Regions from separate parts of the Homo sapiens genome. Here region 2 is linked to region 1. The links come from fine-mapping of genetic effects on gene expression. A gene starts in region 1. The other region holds a variant in brackets. All regions are shown on one strand. Distances are from middle to middle. Region 1 holds the start of TRUB1 (TruB pseudouridine synthase family member 1). Region 2 overlaps TRUB1 (TruB pseudouridine synthase family member 1).

Region 1 (4,396 bases):
CTAACTTGCAGACGTACTGCCTCTACTATATAAAGTGGGGAATTTGGTTCACCCCACTGAACTAAGTATTCGTGGATTTTTATTATTTTCTAGCTATAAAATTCTGGTACACTTAGGGCTTTGAAGGATCCCAACAGACAAACAGTAGAGATTGTAGCATAATAGGAATCAATGCAAAGAAAGACAAGGAATGGTATTAGAGGACACAACCACTGATCATGGTTGTCAAACATGGCATTAGAATGTAGGTATCTTTAAGAACCTTCCCAAGGCCGGGAGTGGTGGCTCATGCCTGTAATCCCAGCATTTTGGGAGGCTGAGGCGGGCAGATCACCTGAGGTCGGGAGTTCGAGCCCAGCCTGACCAACATGGAGAAACCCCGTCTCTACCAAAAATACAAAATTAGCTGGGCATGGTGGTGCATGCCTGTAATCCCAGCTACTTGGGAGGCTGAGGCAGGAGAATCACTTGAACCCAGGAGGGGAAGGTTGCAGTGAGCCGAGATCTTGCCATTGCACTCCAGCCTGGGCAACAACAGCGAAACTCCATCTCAAAAACAAAAACAAAAACAAAAACTTCCCAAGCAATTCTGACAGCCAATTACAATGACATTTGGAAAGCCCTAGCCTAACTAACATAAATACAAAATAGGCCAATCACAAGCAATATAGAAATCGAGGATAATGAGAATGTCTCTAGCTAAAGGTTCTAGCCTAGCAAGAGCCTTGAAACATTTTAACCAAGATTCAACAAGAAACTTCAGTTCTTAGAGGCAGATTAGCCAGAAGGCCAGAATATGGCTTTGTCAGAAACTTGTCTGAAAGAATGGTAATCATTACCTTAAGGATAAAAAAAAAAAAAAAAGAAAAGAAACCCAGAGTTTAGCTAACAAATCAGGAAAGCAGCAGTTCTATGAAGGAAAACTAAAAAACTATGATGATACCACAATACATATCCTTGATGCAATTCCTCACTTTGACGTCCTCTGTATGACCCATACTTTCAGGCAACAAAGCAAAACTTTAATAAAAGAATAAGTAGTCGTGATACTGGAATTAAACATCTGCAGGAGTGTACCTATTTGCCCATAAACACTTAAATCTGTACTGTCAGTTATAATTCCCATCAGAATAATTTGTTTTTGCATTTTTTTAAAGTGTAAAGTTTTCCATGGGACACTAAACAATGTAAGAAAGTCCCTGTTACTGGTTTAATGGCGAGACAGAATACGGCCAAACTCTGGAGGGCCTTGAATAACCTAACTAACTAGTTTTACCACCACAAGGTGCAGAAATTACTAGGCTATCAGCTCAGTTAAGGTAAGAGAGTTATCTTTCATCTTCAAGTCTCTATAGGCTAGCACAGACCTGGCTTATTGTATATGTCCAATGAACTTAAGGATCCTGGATGCTTTATGTGTGAAATCATCCGAGCTGATTAACGGGGTGATTCTCTAGGCTTTTCTACTATTTTCCCAGTGTACGTGAATAAACGAATCAATAAAATGAACACTCTCAGCTTAGTGGCCAAGTTATATTTAGTGTTCCTCAAATGTGGTCCATAAACTACTTACACTGGAATCACCTGGAGCAACTATTTAGAATTGCAGTTTCCTAAAAATACCCCGAACTCTCCGAATCACAATCTCGGACAGGGCAGGGATTAGGAATCTGTATTTGTACAAGAGACTCTAAGTAATTGTTAGGCCCATTAAAATGTGAAAACGACTATATTAAGTCTTGGTTAACGAAGTATATCTGCATTTCCAATACATTTTGAGGAATGCAACTTTAGGGGTGCAGAACCAGTACTTCCTTTTGGGGTTCATCCACATGAACCCAACAAAAGCCTCCTGAGGGATCGATCAGATTACAGAAAACAGGTCTGCACGCCCAAGGGCAGGGTTTTATTGTGTAAGTACGGGATTTTTTTCCTCCCGTTGAGAACTACAACTGCCAAGTAGGCTACAAGAGTTCGTGCCAGGGCAAGTCCAAGCCCGAGATGCCCGAGATTCCTGTCCAGAGCTAATTCAATGGTCAGTCTCCCTTTCCCCTCCTTTTGTCTCTTGAATCACGAGCGTCGCAAAAAGCCTAATGTGCTTCCCCTCTCGCAGCGACCGCCTCAGCCTGGTCCCCACCCGGGCTGCAGTACCTGCCAGCAGCTTCTCCTTCAACCGATTCAGCAGCTCGGCTGAAGTGGGCCCTTTGGGCTTGTGCACGGCGAACACGCCGCTCAAGGACAGCAGCTTGGTAGCCAAAGCGGCCTTGGAGACCCTGGCTTCGGATCCGGTCCTGGCCGCGGCCGCAACCACCGCGGCTGCAGCCCTTGCTGACGGGGTCGCAGCCATTGCTGCGACCGTTCCTGCAGTTTCAAGGACAGGGGATGTGTCTGTTTTCAAAGACGGCGAAGACACCACCGCCGCCTCAGAAGCGGCCATACTTTTGTAGCCCAGACCTGTTTCATCGTGGAGGTGCACGCTGATGATGCAACAAGAGTGCGCCTGACAGGACCCTCTTCCTCATACCGCGAAGCTGCGCAGAACGGAGAGGTCGCACGGACTTGTGGGAATTGTAGTCCATGGCCTTCCCATATAGACCAAGAGCTTGCTGTGCCCTTGGACTTTAAATAGAAAATTTTAAATGTTGACTTTTCCTGAGGCTTGTGAAGATCCATGGCTTCCTGGGCTCACTGCTTCATTGATTGTATTGTGCTCTTACATTCAGGTTCAGAATTAGAAGACATCCAAATGTGAGCTCTATTAGAGCAAGGAACTTATGTACCACGTTAACTGAGACATTCCCAAATGCCTCACATGTTGTAGGCACTTAAATAAATATTTGAAAACGTATAAATAAGTATGAATTCTTCAAATTCCCCGAAGAAACCAAGCCAATGGTAAATCACTTGTGCTTATTTTGATGCTCTTCATGCACTCCTGTTCACCCTCCCCAAACCCCCACTGACCCCACTACAATTTTTAATAATTCTGATTTTGAATATCAGCTCTTCTGTGGGTTGAATTCCTTAGTACACTTTGTTTAGATATCAAAAGGTATTCTTGCAATTCATAAACTTTAAACCACTTCCCATTTGAGACCTTCTCCCTAAAAGTTATTCACTCCCTAACAAGATTGAGGAATATTGTTTTGATTCCAGCACAAGGCAGAGTGGAGAAAAATTACTTCTGCACCAGAAACATTAAATGCTATCATAACTATTGTGAGACAGATAAAGTTTGCCCTCATTGTTTTTTAGGTTTCTTTACAACCACTCTTTGTCCTCATCATACTCTTGGACTTTAATATCTAGTATTTTAGTGATGCCCCTTAGCTGCTCACAATCACCAGTTATGGGGTCCCATTTGAACTTGCACCCATTCGTGCAACAGACACATGGCAGAACAATTTATTAAAAGGAAAAAAAAATCTTTGAGGGAGTTTTTTCAGGGTGGAAAGCTGAAACTCCTAGAAGGAAGTCACTTACTCTTGTGGTCTATTATAAAAGCCTAAGCTAACTGAAAAGATTGGCATATCACAGGATTAGTGGACACCTGGCCCTGCTTCAAGATGTTAATTTTTCCACAAAGATGTTGTGACTTCAGAAGGGATGACTGCACCCAAAGGAGCATGGTGTCCATTAGCCTCAGGAAAGAGTTCTCTATTCTTGTGCCATGGAAGCAGAGAGCCAGGGACTTGCAGGGAAGGTTGCAAGGCTTGATCAATGATGACTTGGATGACTCCAAGGCACTTGGAGATTAGAGGCCTTTTCCCAATTGTCCGGACATCAGCAAGCCTCCCTATTTCTCTTGTGGCTCTGGGGGTGAGGGATGCAGAGGGAGAACAGAACTAGGGGTAACATATGATGCTTATATTTGAATTTTCCATCAGCCCAGTGTAGGACCAGAGTTAATCTGATTTAAAGAAAATGAAGAAATGTATATTTCTTGCATGTTTGATTTCTGGGATGCTAGGACACAACAAAATTAATGCTACTCTGCTATTATATCGGCATTCTTGGGATCAGAAGCACCAAGCTTTGTTTTTCTAAGGTAATCAACATCTCCCACATTGGGCAGGCCTTGAATTCACAGGTTTTTTTTGCTCCAATACATGTATGAGTTTGGGCTCTTTGGTCAACAGAAAACTGATTCATACCAGCTTGGGGGCACAGGGGGAGAAGATTTATCAGAAATACACTGACACACTATTCAGAACCTAGAAAGTTCTCTGTCTCTAGCTGCACATCCTTCTTTTATGCTACTCACTTGTGTCTTTTTTTTTTTTTTTTTTTTTTTTGAGACAGAGTTTCACTCTTGTTGCCCAGGCTGGAGTGCAGTGGCACAATCTCAGCTCACTGCAACCTCCGCCTCCCGGGTTCAAATGATTCTCCTGCCTCA
Region 2 (4,396 bases), 21 kb before region 1:
CAGAAGAATCACTTGAACCCAGGAAGCAGAGGTTACAGTGAGCCAAGAGTGCACCACTGCACCCCAGCCAAAAGACTTTTAGTCTGCTAATATCTGTGTGCTTACATATGAATGCACCTACTTTATTATAAATTACTTTTATTTCTTACTTATATTCCATTTACTACATCATATTGATTTTTCTCAATGTATAAGTAAATTCAAGTATCTCTGAATTTTATTTCAGGATAGTAAAGAAGGCATTATAAGATATTGGTCATAGGTCTCTGTATTAGGTCTCAGAAGGCTGAGAATATTGGTCAGAGTTCTCCATTAGACAGTAAGTTCCTTAAGGACACAAGCTAGGTCTTACATTTATCTATCTTTCCCTTGGTACCTGCTATAGCAGCTTCAACAAATAAAAAATATTTGTTGATTTACTGAAAGCACACAGAAAAATCATGCCAATCAGCAAAATTCTCTGAGCTCTCATTTTCCGGGACTATAAATACTATTCAATAAACTGTAGGAAGCTCTTCTCTTCACAGCCTGAAAAACGTTCTTAGTTTCTCTATGATTTACTGCATCATTACAATGAGATGATTTAACAAACTGAGCTTTCTTTAAGGTAAGTAAATAAGGTTACAAATTACCTAATACAGCATAGAGCTTTTTAAAATACTAAAATGCTTAAGAATAGGAAGAAAGGATATGTTTAAGTATTTTTGTCACCCTGGGCCCCTTCCAGCATCCTCAATGAATTACACTATCATGTAACCAATTTTAAAACCCCAAAACCTAGGTCATGGTTGACAACTTCCTCGCTATCCTGTCCAATCAACTAAAAATCAAGTCTTGCTAATTTTACTTCCTAATCATGGGAAATTTTTCTAATAGGAAAACTCTGTCTCTACCACTGGCACCCTGGTCCAACTTACCATCATCTCTGCTTGGACTACTATAAGAGCCTCATGACTTGTCTATGAGACCTCCAAATTCATTCTCCTCCAATCAATCCTCATAATCACACTATGAGGTTGCTATCATTATTGTCATTTTGGAGATGGAAAAACTACAACATAAAGAGACTAAGAAAATTTCAAATTTGCGCAGCTAGATAAGGGCAGAGCTAGAAATTAAACCCAGATTTGTCTACTCTAGTGCGCCTTATATTTTTCACCACGTGGTACCCACACCCCCCAGCCTTAATTATATTACCCCAGGACTACTGTTCTGAATAATAATCATTCTCCTTATTATGGTTTGGTAAATGGAGTCAGAGATACAGGAGACTTAATTACATAAGTACTTATAAATACTTTAGTATCCTCTGGAAGTCTCTGACGTCCTCCTATTGCCCTATGCCTCCTTAATCTTAAAGTCTTCTGGTTGAAGGTTATAGCTGGCTTTCAGTTAAGTGAGGGTCTGCTATTATTTATTAATAATAATAATTCCAAGAATATTTCAACATCTGTTTTTGAAAAGCCTTGAAATCAATCAGTAATTTTTCTTTTCATTATGTTGCTTGATTAATTGAGCAAGATACTAAGCTACATATAAATGTTAACAGAAAAAATGAAGCTATTATGAACAATAAAAAGGTTGGCCTCACTACTGGGGCAATATGCAGTACGTAATAAGGATAATCAACACAAAAATATAAGGGGGCCAAATGCTGGCTTGCCTATGACTAAGAGATAACACTAAACAAAAAAACAGTCCACAAATTGGTGACATAATGATGCAGGTGAACTGACTTAGAAAACTGCAATTGCTGCATTATAAACAGCATAAGCACTGTGAGAGTTGCTAGGAGACCATTTAATTTATCTATTCTTCCTTACGGTAGTGAAAGAAGGGATAGTAGGAAACTTAAGGTGGGCCCCAGTGAGTTCTGGTTTACTTCCAGAGAAATAGCTTGCCCTCTGTCCTCTTTTTACATAGTCCGAAAGCACAAAAACATGACAAGTTTTAAAGTACTAAACCTGGTACATTTATTTCAACAGCTGACAGGTAATATATTTTTTTTTAATGGCAAGACAGATGAAATCTAACAGAGTATCTCTGCTTTGTTTCTCGTTTACTAGGGAAAATAACCTAAATCCTAGCCATACATGCTTTTGCAAGGAGGTTATTTGGAAGAATAATTCTGAACACTTAAAACATCACTATAGAAAAAGAGGCAATCACAATAAATCTTTATTCAAAAACTCCTATCAAGTAAGCAACAATGCGATAAACAATTTCCAATCTTCTTAGCCCAAAGAAACACACTGAGAATTAAAATGGCTGATAATATCAGAGATTTGTTTTAAAATGCTACCTGCACAGAAACTTTTCCTAAATGTTAGAAAAGAGGCCTACATTAGATGAGCTTCATACCGTAAGGTTTTTCTTCTGTTACC[C/T]TCCCCGTAGAATCTAGTGTATCAGTAGCTTTCCCCAGTTCTCCAATGGCAGTATATCTCTAGAGGAAGGGAAACAAGAGAGAAAATGGGCCGTGAGGCAAACAAAAACTGTTATGCATGTCTTGAAGTTTACACAGAATTTCACTACTACTACCAACCTGATACAAAATACAGGCTAAAACAACAGACTGCAATTGTTTTGTTTTTAATATGTGGAAAGCAATTGTGTAAACTGAAGAACATTAACAAACGTCTCACACTAGCCAATATGAGAAAGATAAACCTGATTTTATTGATAATTATGGCTTAATAATTATGACCATTATTATTGTAAGCAAATTTCTCAAACCACCTTTATACTGAGAAGTTTGTTTAAGGAAAATGTTCAAGTCTATCCATGAGTAGAGAGAATGGTACAATAGCCTTGACTCCATGGTCATCATAAGATTCAATAATCTTCCCACATATACAATTAAAATTAATTTTAAATAAGCCAACTTAGTACTTCTTACATGAAATACTAAGACAATTCTTAGTAACTAGGTCATGTATTAAACAAAAGCTAAATCTGTAGAAAAAGAGCAAAACCAGTATAGTCACAGAATTAGTGACTTAACTATTAAATGTGTTTTTTGTTTGTTTGTTTGTTTGAGATGGAGTTTTGCTCGCTGCCCAGGCTGCAGTGCAGTGGTGCGATCTCGGCTCACTGCAACCTCCGTCCCCCGGGTTCAAGCGATTCTCCTGCCTCACCCTGTGGAGTAGCTGGGATTACAGGCACCCGCCACCACGCCCGGCTAATTTTTTGTATTTTTAGTAGAGATGGGGTTTCACCATGTTGTCAGGCTGGTCTCGAACTTCTGACCTCAGGTGATCCACCCACCTCGGCCTCCCAAAGCCAAAGTGCTAGGATTACAGGCGTGAGCCACCACGCCCGGCCATGTGTTTTCTTAATAAAGATAAATTACTACTTAAGATCTCAGGAACAAGAATCGTTTCTAAGAACTGATCTTTATTCACAAGTGAAGAATTAGATCATTCTTAGTTACGTGAGGATTGTCTTATTTCTCATCTTAGGACACACTTGTAGTACGTACTCTTTTCACTTTGGTCAAACGCAAATTTTATTTGGGGCATCACATGAAGTAGTGAAAAAAGTGCAAGAACTTTATTTCCCACTGAAAATAATCTGTATTTATGTGAGCAATTTTATAAAAGAAAACTCAAAGTACTTTGCAGAAATATAAGCTTATTCATGACAAATTTATGAGGCTAGTGAAGGGACCCAAGACAAAAATGAGAAAAATATTAAAACTTCAAAACCTTGTAAGTATGCAGACATTTTATAACAGCTTAAGGCCCTTCGATGAAATCACCTTAATATTATCTAGCTCAGATTTTTTAAAAATAAATATAATACAGAAGGGAATATTCCAACGCATTTCAATTAATTTTTTTAAAGTTTCATAGGTATTGACAAAAATTAGTTTTTTGTAACTAAACACAGTCTCATCACCTGAGACACCCATTCCTGCTTCTATATTTTGGGACAATCAACCTCGACTAAGCATACCACAGGGGGAAGTATGAGAGAAGTACAACAATGGTAACAGCACAGGCTCAGGGTCAACTGGCTGGATTTGAATTCTGACTGTACCACAATTTGTAGACCAAGTTAGTCTTTCCGGCTGGAGCTTAATTTCCTTATCTTAAAATGTGGAAAACAATAATGCCTCATGAGAAGAAGCAAAGAGTTTAGAGTAACAATATCTAGCCCTGGTAAATAACAGATAATAATACCATCATCATCTTTATTTTCTAAGAAAGAAAATACAGAATGATTCGCAGTTAACAGTGGCTAGAGTTGACTCATCTGGTTACAGTCAGCTCCCATAAGGAAAGCAAAGCATCAAAATGCTTTATGATTTTTTTGTCTTTAGAGTCTGTTTAGTTGCATAAGAAAACCATGGTGCAATCTTGCAGACTATGCCTTGAATGTATCTGCAGTATTCTGC

The links. PIP is the estimated chance that this variant, and not a neighbour inherited with it, causes the effect.
Region 2: its variant is the best candidate, but not a certain one, in a credible set for the expression of TRUB1 in whole blood (INTERVAL, PIP 0.73).

The regions. Positions count from the first base shown.
Region 1 is chr10:114,936,295-114,940,690 of GRCh38, reverse strand. It overlaps TRUB1 (TruB pseudouridine synthase family member 1), which reads right to left and starts at 2,496. Exons shown (of 8, transcript NM_139169.5): 1 at 2,152-2,496. The coding sequence starts at 2,437. RefSeq lists an enhancer at 2,125-2,664.
Region 2 is chr10:114,957,773-114,962,168 of GRCh38, reverse strand. TRUB1 (TruB pseudouridine synthase family member 1) reads right to left here. Exons shown (of 8, transcript NM_139169.5): 4 at 2,362-2,443. Among named protein-coding and RNA genes, the nearest start is that of TRUB1, 22 kb to the right of the region's middle. The variant C/T (reference allele first, on the strand shown) is at 2,385.